Linked DNA regions of Homo sapiens. The protein of the gene in region 1 purifies or fractionates together with the protein of each later gene. This does not show direct contact. Each region holds a gene or a part of one and is shown in the gene's direction. Other genes may lie near its edges.

Region 1 (3,500 bases):
GATGGGGTTTCACCATGTTGGTCAGGCTGGTCTCAAACTCCTGACCTCAAATGATTCACCACCCACCTCGGTCTCCCAAAGTGCTGGGATTACAGGCATGAGCCAGCTTGGCCTTTTTAAATATTAAGTGCATGTACTTGAAAGTAGGTACACATGAAGATAAAAGAATAGGCTCCAGGAAAATTTAAGTCAAGTCTTCATAATCTATAAAATTGCCTATTTAATAAATATATGTTGTAAACATTTTTAATGTTCTGTAATTACTGTTATTAATGTCATGTTACCTCTTTGATCTAGGTACTTTGGTCATAAAGCTGAAGTATATAAAAACAATCTATATTTAGTACAGACCAAAATTCATGTCCTTTGCTTTTAAAAGGTAGAACCAAGAAAAAAAAAGCAATAGCAGAATACGGGCACGTATTCTAAAGAATTATAAATGGATTTTGCAGCACTTAATTTCTGTTTTTTTTTTAAGTACCTTTCTTTGATTCTTTGTCTCCTCATTGGTACCATCCCAGAACACTGATGTCTTCTGCCAGATCAGACCTGTCTTGATCATCTTCCCCACCTAAATCAGGATGTGTCCTCCCTTCTACCTTTCCAGAAATCCCACCTTAGTTTTCATACTTTTCTTGATTAACTGGTCATAAGATGATTTCCCTCAACTCCACCCTGTCTCAACATGCAACTCCCCATGAGTCAATCTTCATAATTGTTTCTAATGTGTTTGTTCCATGGTGTGTGTTGAGTAACTGTTGTTGCCATTTGCATGACTACATAGTGGTTACTGTTTATTTCTGCAGTTTGGTGTTTTTTTTAAGTCTTGAAATAGGATTTATTAACCGGAAGTGTTTCTTTTTATTTCTTAATTAAATTCAGTGAGAAGCTTATCATGAAATGTTATTCTTAGGCTGGCATTCATAAAACACTGGAGTGTTTCATTTTCTCCTGATCTCAATCTGCCTTCCAAAGCTGCTAATGACAGATGAGAGCAAGATTATAATTTTAGTTAGGGTGTGGTGGCTCATACCTGTAATCCCAGCACTTTGGGAGGCCAAGGCTGGAGGATCCCTTGAACTCTAAAGCTCGACACCAGCCTGGGCAACACAGGGAGACCCTGTCTCAAAAAAAAAAAAAATTTAAAAAGATTATAATTGTATGTAGTCAAAGAAATGTGTTTCTTTTCAAAGGCAATGTGTCAGAACTTTGTCCCATCTCTGGGCCTTTTCTTTATTATCTTAAACTCTAAACTATAGAATTAGCCTCCTCAACTATAGTTTTTGCAGGCCAGTTCACTCTCCTTGCTCTAGAACTCTGGATAGCCTATATATTTCCATCATCCTGTCTCTTTCATAAAGAATCTTGCCTTTAAATGAAAGACTACTCCTTAAACATTAGTACTTGTAATATTCAATCACCTACACATATTAAAGAACGCCTGCCCTCTTGTGTCCAGGGAGACTGCTACAGCAAGTATTGAATTAGCAAACTTGTCATTCCGGAAATACAGCATTCTACCCTACAGGGATTATCTACCAGGGAGCTTTCTCAAGGCTGCCAAGTATGGTTGTACAGTTTGAAAAATGATCCCAGCCCAAGACACGAATGCAATCCATTTTACACTCTGTCAAGCCATATATCCTTGCCCAGGTCATGTCTTTCTAGAGAGGTGACCCATTAAAATTTCATTCAAGAGTACTGTTAAACCTTGTACCACTTGGAATGTGCAACTTTCTCTAATTTACACAAAGCTCTCTATAGCTTAATGGCAGCCGTGTAGAGGCTCATTAAGAGTTAGTTGGGGCCGGGCACGGTGGCTCACGCCTGTAATCCCAGCACTTTGGGAGGCCGAGGCGGGCAGATCATGAGGTCAGGAGATCGAGACCATCCTGGCTAACATGGCGAAACCCCGTCTCTACTAAAAATGCAAAAAATTAGCAGGGCGTGGTGGCGGGCGCCTGTAGTCCCAGCTACTTGGGAGGCTGAGGCAGGAGAATGGCGTGAACCCAGGAGGTGGAATTTGCAGTGTGCCAAGATCACGCCACTGCACTCCAGCCTGGGCGACAGAGCGAGACTCCGTCTCAAAAAAAAAAAAAAAAACTAAGAGTTAGTTGGACAGTCCTCTCATCGTGTAACTTTCCTACTCAAGAAATTTCAAGAAATTAAAATCAGATTGTTAGAGCTGAATAGCTGAATGACATTAGTCCCAGGTTATCAGAAGAAGGAAATAAGGAAGAGAGAGGCAAAATAAGAACTGTCAAATTCATTAGAGGCAAGCAGGAAACTAAAATGCAGGTCTTCTGACTCCCAGTCCATGCTCTTACCTCCGGTTTCAGGTGACCCGTTTCTTTGACCCCACCTTACTTATTCCATACTAGGCTAGAATAGATGTGTAATAGCATGCATAGGGCTGGTGGGGTGATTTGAGGCAGTATGTGGACAAACATTTTTTGCACATTAGTAGAAATGTATTTGTTTTAATGTATTTCTTTGGGAAAAAACAAAAACATTAAGTCCATAGTTTCTGAGACATTATGATATATGACAAGGGTAAGTTAAGTTTGAAAAGTGAGTTAATTTGAAGAAAGATATTAAGTAGTGCATATGTTAATAGCTTGATTTAGCCATTGACAATGTATACATATATCAGAATATCATTTTGTATGCCAAAATATATACAATGTTTCCTTGTCAGATATCAAAATATCCTTTCTTTTGTATAACATAAATATATATAATTTTTACTTGTCAGTTAAAAAATAACAAAAATATTAACTAAATGATAGTTCAGATAGTACTCAGATATGGCAAAAATGATAAAAGTGGTAAAAAATCATGGTAGAAATTTGAGACCATCTCAGTCCATTCTGACTACTATGACAAAACACCTCAGACTAGGTAATTTATAAGCTATAGAAATGTTATTGCTCACAGTTCTGGAGGCTGGGAAGCCCAAGATGAAGGGACTGGAAGACTCAGTGTCTAATGAGGGTCTGTTTCTCGTAGACAGTGCCTTCTCTCTGTGACCTCACATAGTGGAAGGGGCTAGCTAGCTCCCTCGGGACTGTTTTGTAAGGGCCTTAAAACCCTTCAGCAGGATGCACCGAAGGAACTTACCACTCTGGCCCCTTCTAACCCTACCACTGAGGTCCTTTTCTGTTTAACACTGACAGTTGTTCCATTACTGTTACTGATGACAGTATATCCTCTCTTTTTATTACAGCTGTGCCTGATATTCTATCCTTTCCATACTCATCCCAGTATAAACCACAAAATAGGTCTTCAGAAAAGACTGTGGCTTCACTGATTTTCCTGTGTTGCCTCCAACATTTATAAAAAAGCATTGACCAAGAGTGTCAATGCCCTAGTTTCAAAACCATCTTTACTTTTCTAAATGTAGATGTTTTTCCATTTATAAAAATTATGTAGACTTAGCCGGGTGTGGTGGCCCACACCTGTAATCCCAGCACTTTAGAGGCTAAGGTGGGTGAATCACT
Region 2 (3,500 bases), on another chromosome or scaffold:
AATCTGTATCTTAAAGAATGACCCAAGTGCCACCAGTCTAGTCCAGGGCACCACTCTTTTTTTACCTGGTTGGCCATTGTCCCCTGTCAACTGACCTCTGACTTTCATACATTCTACACAGCCCATTCCAGACCATTCTCCACCTGGCAGAGAGGGTTATAAGTGGAAGTCACATGGTGTTGAAACCGGAAAGGTTCCCTTGTCCCCCTCGCAGGGCATGTGATGGGGGTGTGGCTCGCTTCTTCAGTGCCCCGCTGCTGCTCAGACCTCTAGGAGAGCATACAGACGGGCAGGCTGTGGGGCTCCGACCCCATGGCAGCATCTGGGGGTGAATGTTTTACAGCTCCTAAGGCTCCAGCGGGCATGTGTTACAGTGTGCTCTTTTAATTTAGCCGTCTGTAGGCAGCTTGTTTTAGCTCACTTAGACCCCCTTCCTTATCACAAGGACAGAGGGATTAATGTATCCCAGGTTCTTGTCTTGGTGTACCGGAAGAATGGGATCACATGTGGGCTTGGAGAATGAGTGCAAGGTTTTATTGAATGAAAGTAGCTCTCCGCTGATGGGGGAGCCAGAAGGGAGACAGATTTCCCTTGGAGTTGGGCCGCTCAGCGGCCCTGGCCAAACTCCGCCTCGTCCCCGTGGTTGATGGCCTGCTGGCTTGCCGGGGCCTGTCGGGGTGCTCTTCTGCCGGCCTGCTCTCCATGACCAGCCGCTTGTGTCTTTTTCCACCAATGTGTTCCTCTGGCCATCCAGCCACTTCTGTCTGCCCACTAGGGTCTCAGGTTTTTATAGGCCCAGGATGGTGGTGTGGTGGGCCAGCGTGGTCTTGGGAAATGCAACATTTGGGGGAAGGCAGGAGTGCTTGTCCTCACCTAGGTCCGTGGGGGTAGAGTCCTAGCCAGGGACCCGCCTTTCTCTCCCCAGCACTTCCCTTCCCCGCTTCTGTGTCATTTAAAGGGACCACGCTCTTCCCTTCCCAGCACTCCCGTATCAGTGTCACTTCCCTGCCCAGAGCCCCTGGGTATCTTACCATTTCGGTCGAACAAAGGCCAGGCTCTCCCATGCCCCATGAGGCCTGCACACTCTGCCCCGAATTCGCTTCTGCCTTCCCCCCTTCCACTCTCCCTCTTGTTCGTTGTGCCTCAGTCAGACCAGTCTTCTCCGCGCTCCAGAACACTCTGCCCTTTCCTACCGCAAGGGCTTAACACTCGGCGTTCCCTCTGTCTTACACACATTTCTCTCTTCTGGTGCCAGCTCCTCCTCACCATTTCGGTCTCCACTAAGTATCCACATCCTCAGCCTTCCCTGCCTATCGTGCCTGAGGGGACTCCATCATTTTCTATCAGAGCCCCCAGCTTCACTTGTGACACTAACAACCACATGGAGTGATTTTCTTTCTTTATGGTCTGTTTCCTCAACTAAAATGTAAGCTCCAAGATGACAGAAACCTTACCTGCCTTCTGTCCCAAGTGTCGGGCTCTGTGCCTGGCACGGGTTGGCACCCACTGTGAGGCCTAGTTAGATGATCGTGGCACTCACAGACCTCGCACGGTGCTTGGTAAACTAGTTAGTAACTTAAAACAATTGCTGTTTCCCCTTGAAATCCCTTGAAAGCAAACCTTTTCAAAAATGAAATTAATAATTCTGTCTTATGTGAATGTATTCAAGTGTTACATAGATCACGAGGAAAAAGAAATGTAGCCCTTCTGTCAGATAATACATGAGAATTCAGTAATACGAGTCAGTGCCCTGGGGCTAATATTGGGATGGGAATGATGTGGGGTTTGGAGGGTGTTTTTTTTGGTCAGCCGTGTTTCTGGGAGTGACTCCCTTTCTGTGTTTTGGTGTCAGATCCGGTGTTTAAAGCCGTCCCAGTGCCCAACATGACACCTTCAGGAGTCGGCCGGGAGAGGCACTCGTGTGACGCGCTGAATCGCTGGGTGAGAATGGCAGTCACCCCCCTTTCCTTTCAGGTCCCCGTCCATCACCATCCGACCTGCTGGTGAGGGTGACGCGTGCTCGTGTATGGGAACTGAGGCCCACAGGAGGAGCCGCCCTGCCAGTGCTGGGCCTGCTCTGGAGTTCTGTTCCCCATTGCGTTACCACCTCACGAGCTGGGTCACCTCTGGCAAGTCCTTCTGGCATTGCTCCCTCACTTTCCTTGCTGCTGTATAAGGCTGTGAGACAACAGGCAAAAGGTGGGCTGCAGGGCAGCTGCGGTGGGTTCTGGTGAGCCTGGGCAGCACAGCCGGGAGCCCCAGGCAGAGTCTGCCGAGCATCTGCAGCTGGCAGTGTGGAGCCAGGCCTGCACTTTGATAGCGTTTTGGGCACTGAATAGCAGCTCTAGGATTTGAGTCTGAAGGGTCTTGTGAACAGTGTGGGATGGCGGCAGCAGCAGTTCTAGCCAATGCTGGACACGCCCAGCCTAGCAGGGTTGGCAGATAAGTCCTGGTACATCCATGCTGGGGCTCAGCACAGCTGTGAGAGACCACAGAGCTGAGTGTCTCAAGCAGAAAGGAACTGGTCATAAACGAAATGAATCAATGCAGGTTACTAAGCAGTGTCAAGTAGCATGTTTTATGACAACAACTACAACTCCCTGCCCGCCACTAGGAGAAAAGACGCTGGGGGCAGACCACATGTCAGCAGTGGGTGTCGCTTAGTAATATATTGTGGGTCATTGTTATTTTCTTCTTTTTGTTTACTTGTATTTCCTAAATTTTTCTACAATGAACTTGTATTAATAAGAAAAAACCATAAAATTTACTGTTTTTAAAAAGCTGCTCTAAGTAATCAGACAGTCAAAAGAGCAGGAATCAGCTCTCCAGGAGGCTCTTTGGTCTGGGGCCGAGGGGATGAGGGTGGGTCCTGAAGACGTCTGAGTCCCTTGTTACAGGAGGGTGTTCATTGTGTCCTCCTCACAGCTGGGAGAACAGCTGAAGCAGCTGGTGCCTGCAAGCGGCCTCACAGTCATGGATCTGGAAGCTGAGGGCACGTGTTTGCGGTTCAGCCCTTTGATGACCGCAGCAGGTAAACCAGGCTTGGTGGACATCCCTTGCTTTTGTTCTGGGGCTGCTGGGTAGATTAGCTTGCCCTTATGATACTCCATTCTCCTAGAGTTATTAGCAGCTCTTTTTGGAGGGGCATTTTCTTTTCTTTTGGGCTAAATTTAGGTAGATTAGCATTCCCATGTAACTTACCAGAATCAGAATGAGAATTCAGAAGTCACCTGAATTGGCCGGGCATGGTGGCTCACACCTGTAATCCCAGCACCTTGGGAGGCCAAGGCAGGCAGATCATCTGAGGTCAGGAGTTCGAGACCAGCCTGGCCAACATAGTGAAATCCCGCCCCTACTAAGAATACAAAAAATTAGCCAGGCATGGTGGTACACACCTGCAGTCCCAGCTACTTGGGAGGCTGAGGCAGGAGAATCACTTGAACCTGGGAGGCCGAGGTTGCAGTGAGCTGAGATTACACCACTGCACTCCAGCCTGGGGG
Region 3 (3,500 bases), on another chromosome or scaffold:
CCAGCAACTGGAGAAGAGAAAGCAAATGGCTATGAATACCCACTACAAGAACTGGCAGAAGATCAAGGGGAGCAAAGACAGCAAATATGCTATTAAATTAGGCATGGTTAGAAATCGTGGCTGGTTGGAAGCTGATCCAGGCAAAGCTGGTATATTGAAAACTAGGGAAGTTTGGGGGCCAGAGGTCAGAGGTCCAATGACAGGTAGAGAACAGACGCTTTAGGAGTTCAAGAAGAAGGGGGAGATGTAATGAGGTAATCAAGACCAAGTCAATGTGAAACAGTCCGAAGTCCCAAAGCTGGGCTATACCTATGGGCCCCAAGGTGAGTACAGATGGCTCCTAATCTGAAGATTCTCCACTGTGCTATTACATGTAATCCCAAACCAAACTTATAAGAATACTGGCCTTCCCTGGCATTTGAGTTTTATTCTGCCTCTTTAAAAGGGCTACTCAGAATAAATCAGTCTCCTTTGCAGAGTCAGGAGAAGGGAAACCAGCCTCTCTGTGCAGTGTTAGCATGATGAGCTAAGAGTTCAGAAATGACTGTAAATGAAAAATGGTGATAATGATAGCAGCTATCATTTACTGAATGCTTCCCACGGGCCAGCTGCCATGCTGATTTCCTTTATGTTGATTATGTCATTGTATATCTTGTGACAGATCTTCAGGGTAGGGGCTATTTTTGTCCCTGTTTCAGAGCTGAGGAAGAAAAGGTTAGGTATTGGAGCTGAGACTTAAACCCTAGTGTGACTGAATCCAAAGCCTGTACTTTTAACCATGAGGCTAAAACCATTTCATCAAAAGCCTTTCTGCTATTCATGTTCTTAACATCATAGAACTGGTAGGGACTATAGAGAGGTCCTTTAATCACAGATTCAAACTAGCCTAAATCCCAAAGCCCTGGAGAATGCATCCCAGGCATTCATTTTTTGAAAGAGACCTAGAGAGGAAAAGTCACGGGGCTGGAACTAAAACATGGGCTTCTTGAATCCCTGTCTAGCTCTTATTCTATTTCTCAGGTTGCCGTGGACCAAAATGAACTCTCAGTCTATTTGTCTTATCAAATTGCAGTCTTCAGCAAGTGTCTGAATAACTTGGTCAGGACCTTCCTTCCAGGAAGAGCCTGGTGACCCTCTGAAAGCAGCCATGTACTTGGGAGTTCTCCTGCACACCCATGGTTTTTGATGCTCACTATAGTGACTAGGCAGCTGGAGGATTCCAATCCTAATGATACGGAGAACACAAAACAATATGAGACACTGGGTCCCCCAGCCTTCTTCTCTGGGCCTGAGGGGAGATTTGAATTAGCAACTCCTCACATGAGCTGCATTCTTTAGCCTTAATTTAAGTGGGCAGAGGTGAATGAAAATGTGTAAATGTTGAAGTGTTATTATTCAAAAGCCCTTGAGATCCCATAGCTCATCGTAGTAATTAAAATGCAGCACAGAAGACCCCTTGCTTCAGTAGCTCACAGGGTATAAGGAAAATGAATGAGGATCACAAGTTGATGGGATTGGGAATTAGCATGCTGGTGTGCCATATTGAGTAGAACAGCTGGCCTCGATGTATGGGTAGCATAAGAAACAGGCCTCCCTCCCTGTGTGCCACTATCTCCTTGTTTCTCTCCTAGAAGGGCAGACTGTGGGGAGGGCAGAGCTCGGGGAACATGGGAAGTAGTGTAGGAGAAAGGCCTAAGGGTCTCTTCTGCAACTTCACTAGTCCCTGGGCGTGAGGTTTGTTGCCCAGGGTGGTCTCTAACTCCTGAGCTCAAGTGATCCTCCTCTCTCAGCCTCCCAAAGTGCTGGGATTACAGGCATGTACTGCCACACCTGGCCCTTCTCTGCCTTTTCTAATGTATTTTTACTTCTCTGTAAGCCTGACAAGGTCTTATTTCTCCTTCAGTGCTCAGCTCGAAAGCTACCTCTTCTGAGAAGCCTTCTGGTTCGAAGTAATCAGGCTTTCCTTTTTGTCTGCCAAGCATATGATTTATGCCTGTCTTAAAGCATCTATTGAGGCAGACTTGGTGTCTTTATTTTTTTTATTTTTTATTTTTTGGTGAGACAAGGTCTCGCTGTGTCTCCCAGGCTGGAGTGCAGTGGCATGATCACAGCTCACTGCAGCCTTGAATTCCTGGACTCAAATTATCCTCCCATCTCAACCTCCCAAGTAGCTGGGACAGCAGGTGTGCACCACCACACCCAGCTAATTTTTAAATTGTTTATAGAGATGAGGTCTCGCCATGTTGCCCAAGCTGATCTTGAACTCCTGAGCTCAAGCAATCCTCCCACCACAGGCTCCCAAAGCGTTGGGATTACAGGCGTGAGCCACCACACCCGGCCTCTTTATCCTCATATCCACCTGGGTGCCTCCTGAGGACAGACACTTCATACATTTGTCCATGGGATGAGTGGTTACAGTGACAGTTCTGGGGCCTGTCTCAGAGTTTCTCACTTCAGCCCTCTCACCATATTACCTTCTGTCCCTTCCTTCTGCTGTTCAGAGTTATAAGGATGGTGAAGGTAATGAATGCTTGTGAAGTGCTTTATATCTTACAGAGTACTTTCATGTACCTTATCTTTGATGATCCTTGTGACAGACCTGTGAGGAACGGAGAAGTAGTTGGTCTCATCTGTGAGCAAAGTGTGTTGTAACGGACCCTGTGTGGAGGATAATAACAATTTCAACATCTATTGAGAGCGTGGCATGTGCTAGACACGGTTCTTAATGCATTACACGTATAATTTAATTACCGCAACAATCCCCCAATTAAGATCCCAGAATTGCACAAAGAAGTGATTTGCTTAAAAACTGCTTCTTGATCAGTATATTCTATTGTTAGCACCTTGTCCCTAAGAGACCTTATATTATCCTTACTTTGCAGAAGGAAGAAACCATTGAGTAATTCTTTTCCCACCCATTGATCTGCCAAAAAAAACTCATCTTGGCCTTGGATGTAGTTTTTAATGGGAACAAGAACACCAGCCTTAGGGTCTTGGATCTCGGCAAGCTTTTCAGATACCAAAGTGTCTTTCTTAGGAATTGCCTGGCTAAGTCATATGATTATAAGAATTTCTTTCCATCATTTCTTATATTCCACAAAATATTGGTGGATTGTGGTTTCTCTAATAGGATTATGACCCTCAGAGATTCTTCCTCCACATATTTCCTTCCTCCGTAAGTTTCCATTCTTTCCTTCTACCCACTTCCTTCCCCTTGGCATGTGTCTGGTATTGAGCCCTTGGCATCTGTCTCTCTTTCATCATTGATAGCTAGCATGAATGGGTGGCTGTTTCACAGGGCCTGCATTGTTGGCTCCCACAGCAGCAGTTAGAACATTCTCTGTGGCCTGGGTTCTGAGGTCCACCCAGGCAGTGTGAGCCAGGCTGGCCCCCAGTTCTGAGCTGTGGTGTTTCCTTTCATTGTTGGTGCCTTAGCTCCCAGTTGTTAAATATGAAGCTGGAAGTTGATACAAAGCAGTAGAAGCCTGTGCTCCTTTTAC
Region 4 (3,500 bases), about 120 Mb from region 1:
ACCTCAGATGATCCGCCCGCCTCAGCCTCCCAAAATGCTGGGATTACAGGCGTGAGCCACCGCGTCCAGCCAAGAAAAAAAGTTTTTAATGAAAGAAACAGAAACTGATGCCATTATATAATGAACCCTAGTACCCATCACCCAGCTTCAGCAGGTGTTAGTATTTTGTGACTCTTTGATTTTTTTGTCTTGGGCCTAGGTGAAATGACAATGGATGCTCTGTTGGCTCGATTGAAACTTCTGAATCCAGATGACCTTAGAGAAGAAATCGTCAAAGCCGGATTGAAATGTGGACCCATTACATCAACTACAAGGTTCATTTTTGAGAAAAAATTGGCTCAGGCTTTACTGGAGCAAGGAGGAAGGCTGTCTTCTTTCTACCACCATGAGGCAGGTGTCACAGCTCTCAGCCAGGACCCACAAAGGATTTTGAAGCCAGCTGAAGGGAACCCAACTGATCAGGCTGGTTTTTCTGAAGACAGAGATTTTGGTTACAGTGTGGGCCTGAATCCTCCAGAGGAGGAAGCTGTGACATCCAAGACCTGCTCGGTGCCCCCTAGTGACACCGACACCTACAGAGCTGGAGCGACTGCGTCTAAGGAGCCGCCCCTGTACTATGGGGTGTGTCCAGTGTATGAGGACGTCCCAGCGAGAAATGGTAATGGGACCGTGTGTAGGATTTCCTCACACAGATAGCACATACGCGGAGGGGCGGGATGACGTCTGAAAATGGAAAACTACAGATTAAGAAGGAAAAAATCCAATCCCCTCCATCTCATCACCCCAGTTAACCATTGTTAACATTTTTATGTAGAACTTTTCTGAAATATTTGTGAATTTAACATGAGAACTGTTAAAATTTGTGAGGTAAATTGGATTCTATGAGATATGCTGGACTGAGATATTAATATTAACTGGCTGCTGCTGTTGGTTAGGAACTTTGTTGATTAGTCATCTCCGCCTTTTTAAAATGCAGTGTAACCTGCACATCTTTTATGTTAATGAATGCAAATGGCCAATGAGTGTATAAATACTTTTCAGCATCAAAGATTTGTGGTTTTATTTTGTTTTTATTTATTTATTTATTTTTTGAGACAAAGTCTCACTCTGTTGCCCAGGCCAGAGTGCAGTGGCGTGATCTCAGCTCACTGCAACCTCTCCCCTCCCAGTTTAAGCGATTCTCCTGCCTCAGCCTCCTGAGTAGCTGGGATTACAGGCGCCTGCCACCGCGCCTGGCTAATTTTTTGTATTTTTAGTAGAGACGGGGTTTCACCATCTTGGCCAGGCTGGTCTTGAACTCCTGACCTCATGATCCACCTGCCTTGGCCTCCCAAAGTGCTGAGATTACAGGCTTGAGCCACCGCGCCTGGCCATTTTATTTTTTTAATTTATTCATTCATCTGAAACAGGGTGTTACTCTGCCACCTAGGCTGCATTGCAGTGGTGCAGTCACAGCTCACTGCAGCCTCAACCTTTCTGGCTCAGGTGATCCTCCCACCTCAGCCGCTTGAGTAGCTGGGACCACAGGCATACGCCACCACGCACAGCTAATTTTTATGGTTTTTTTTTGTTTTGTTTTGTTTTGTTTTTTTGAGACAGAGTCTCGCACTGTCACCTGGGCTGGAGTGCAGTGGTGCGATCTCAGCTCACTGTAACCTCAGCCTCCTGAGTAGCTGGGAACTACAGGCGCCCGCCACCATACCCAGCTAATTTTTTATTTTTTGTATTTTTAGTAGAGACAAGGTTTCGCGATTTTGGCCAAGCTGGTCTCGAACCCCTGACGTCGTGATCTGCCCACCTCGGCCTCCCAAAGTTCTGGGATTACAGGTGTGAGCCATCACGCCCAGCCAATTTTTGTATTTTTTATAGAGGCGGGGTTTCGCCACGTTGCCCACGCTTCTCTCGAACTGCCCTCAAGCGATCCACCCACCTTGGTCTCCCAAAGTGCTAAGATTACAGGCACACACCAGCACGCCTAGCTAATTGGTTGTTTTTGGTGGTTTTTTTTTTTGAGACTGGGGTCTCTCTCTCACCCAGGTTGGGGTGTAGTGATGCAATCTCAACAACTCACTGCAATGTCTGCCTACCAGGCTCAAGGAGTCCTCCCACCTCAGCCTCCGGAGTAGCTTGGGATCGCTGGGATCACGGGCACGTGCCAGTACGCGCCAGTTTTTTTGTATTCTTGGTAGAGACAATGTTTCCCCATGTTGCCCAGGCTGGTCTCCCAACTCCTGGGCTCAAGTGATCTGCCAGGCTCAGCCTCCCGAAGTGCTGGGATTACAGGCGTGAGCCACCTCGCCTGGCCACACCTAGGTAATTAAATTTTTTTTTTTTTTTTTAAGAGACTGGGTCTCGCTTTATTGCTTAGTCTGGTCTTGAACTCCTGGCTTCAAGCAGTCCTCCCACCTGAGCCTCCCAAAGTGCTGAGATTACAGGTGTGAGCCACTGTGCCCAGCCCAAGAATTGTAATTTTAAAGAAGATTTAGCATTGGAAAAAAGAAATGAGAACTCAGTATTAATTGGGATGCCAGAAATTGCACACTGTTATGAGTATTGTTATTACTGTGATACCATTTGTGGTGACGCCTATGAGTACATAATTGGTTAAACACTATGAATAGAATGGAATATTGTTCTGTAAGATCTTTTTAAAGAATACGTAGGGGCCGGGCGCGGTGGCTCACGCCTGTAATCCCAGCACTTTGGGAGGCCGAGGCAGGCAGATCACGAGGTCAGGAGATCGAGACCATCCTGGCTAACACGGTGAAGCCCCGTCTTTACTAAAAATACAGAAAATTAGCGGGGTGTGGTGGTGGGCACCTGTAGTCCCAGCTACTTAGGAGGCTGAGGTTGCAGTGAGCTGAGATTGTGCCACTGCATTCCAGCCTGAGCGACAGAGCTAGATTCCATCTCAAAAAAAAGAAAGTAACACTGGGAAATGATCATGGTGCAGTTTTTATTTTTATTATTTATTTATTTATTTACTTATTATTTGAGACAGAGTCCCGGTCTGTCGCCAGGCCGGAGTGCAGTGGTGCGATCTTGGCTCACTCCAACCTCTGCCTTTTGGGTTCCAGTGATTTTCCTGCTGCAGCCTCCCGAGTAGCTAGTACTACAGGGGTGTGCCACCACGCCCGGCTAATTTTATATTTTTAGTAGAGACAGGGTTTCTCCACGTTGGTCAGGCTGGTCTCAAACTCTCAACGTCAGGTGATCCACCTGCCTCAGCCTCCCAAAGTGCTGGGATTACAGGCGTGAGCCACCGTGCCCGAACTATGGCTATTTTTATCCAGTAGTGGACAGTAACCATTCGTCTGTTACATTGTTCATAAATTTTTGTCTCCTGGCCAGTAGTGTATATCTTATGTATTTACGATAGTCTCATACAAAACTTAATTGTGATAGTTCCACTACAGAGCTTTAATATTTTTATATAATCAGGATTATCTTGTTTTGAATGGTTTCTTGGCATGTTTAAAAAGGCATTCCCAGCCGGGTAC

Evidence for each region. The genes of interacting proteins can lie anywhere in the genome.
Region 2: the proteins of PLBD1 (region 1) and PDXDC1 purify together in Homo sapiens (affinity purification with mass spectrometry; one large-scale study listed by BioGRID and IntAct). This does not show direct contact.
Region 3: the proteins of PLBD1 (region 1) and ANKS1A purify together in Homo sapiens (affinity purification with mass spectrometry; one large-scale study listed by BioGRID and IntAct). This does not show direct contact.
Region 4: the proteins of PLBD1 (region 1) and ANKLE2 purify together in Homo sapiens (affinity purification with mass spectrometry; one large-scale study listed by BioGRID and IntAct). This does not show direct contact.

What each region holds. Positions count from the first base shown.
Region 1 is NC_000012.12:14,512,384-14,515,883, reverse strand, and holds part of PLBD1 (phospholipase B-like 1 precursor), read left to right. Parts: intron 1-3,500. UniProt on the Homo sapiens protein: In view of the small size of the putative binding pocket, it has been proposed that it may act as an amidase or a peptidase.
Region 2 is NC_000016.10:15,027,026-15,030,525, forward strand, and holds part of PDXDC1 (pyridoxal-dependent decarboxylase domain-containing protein 1), read left to right. Parts: intron 1-1,852; coding exon 1,853-1,941; coding exon of another isoform or gene 1,942-2,007; exon of another isoform or gene 2,008-2,780; intron 2,781-2,925; coding exon 2,926-3,031; intron 3,032-3,500.
Region 3 is NC_000006.12:35,011,255-35,014,754, forward strand, and holds part of ANKS1A (ankyrin repeat and SAM domain-containing protein 1A), read left to right. Parts: intron 1-3,500. UniProt on the Homo sapiens protein: Regulator of different signaling pathways. Regulates EPHA8 receptor tyrosine kinase signaling to control cell migration and neurite retraction.
Region 4 is NC_000012.12:132,751,833-132,755,332, reverse strand, and holds part of ANKLE2 (ankyrin repeat and LEM domain-containing protein 2), read left to right. Parts: intron 1-199; coding exon 200-658; intron 659-3,500. UniProt on the Homo sapiens protein: Involved in mitotic nuclear envelope reassembly by promoting dephosphorylation of BAF/BANF1 during mitotic exit.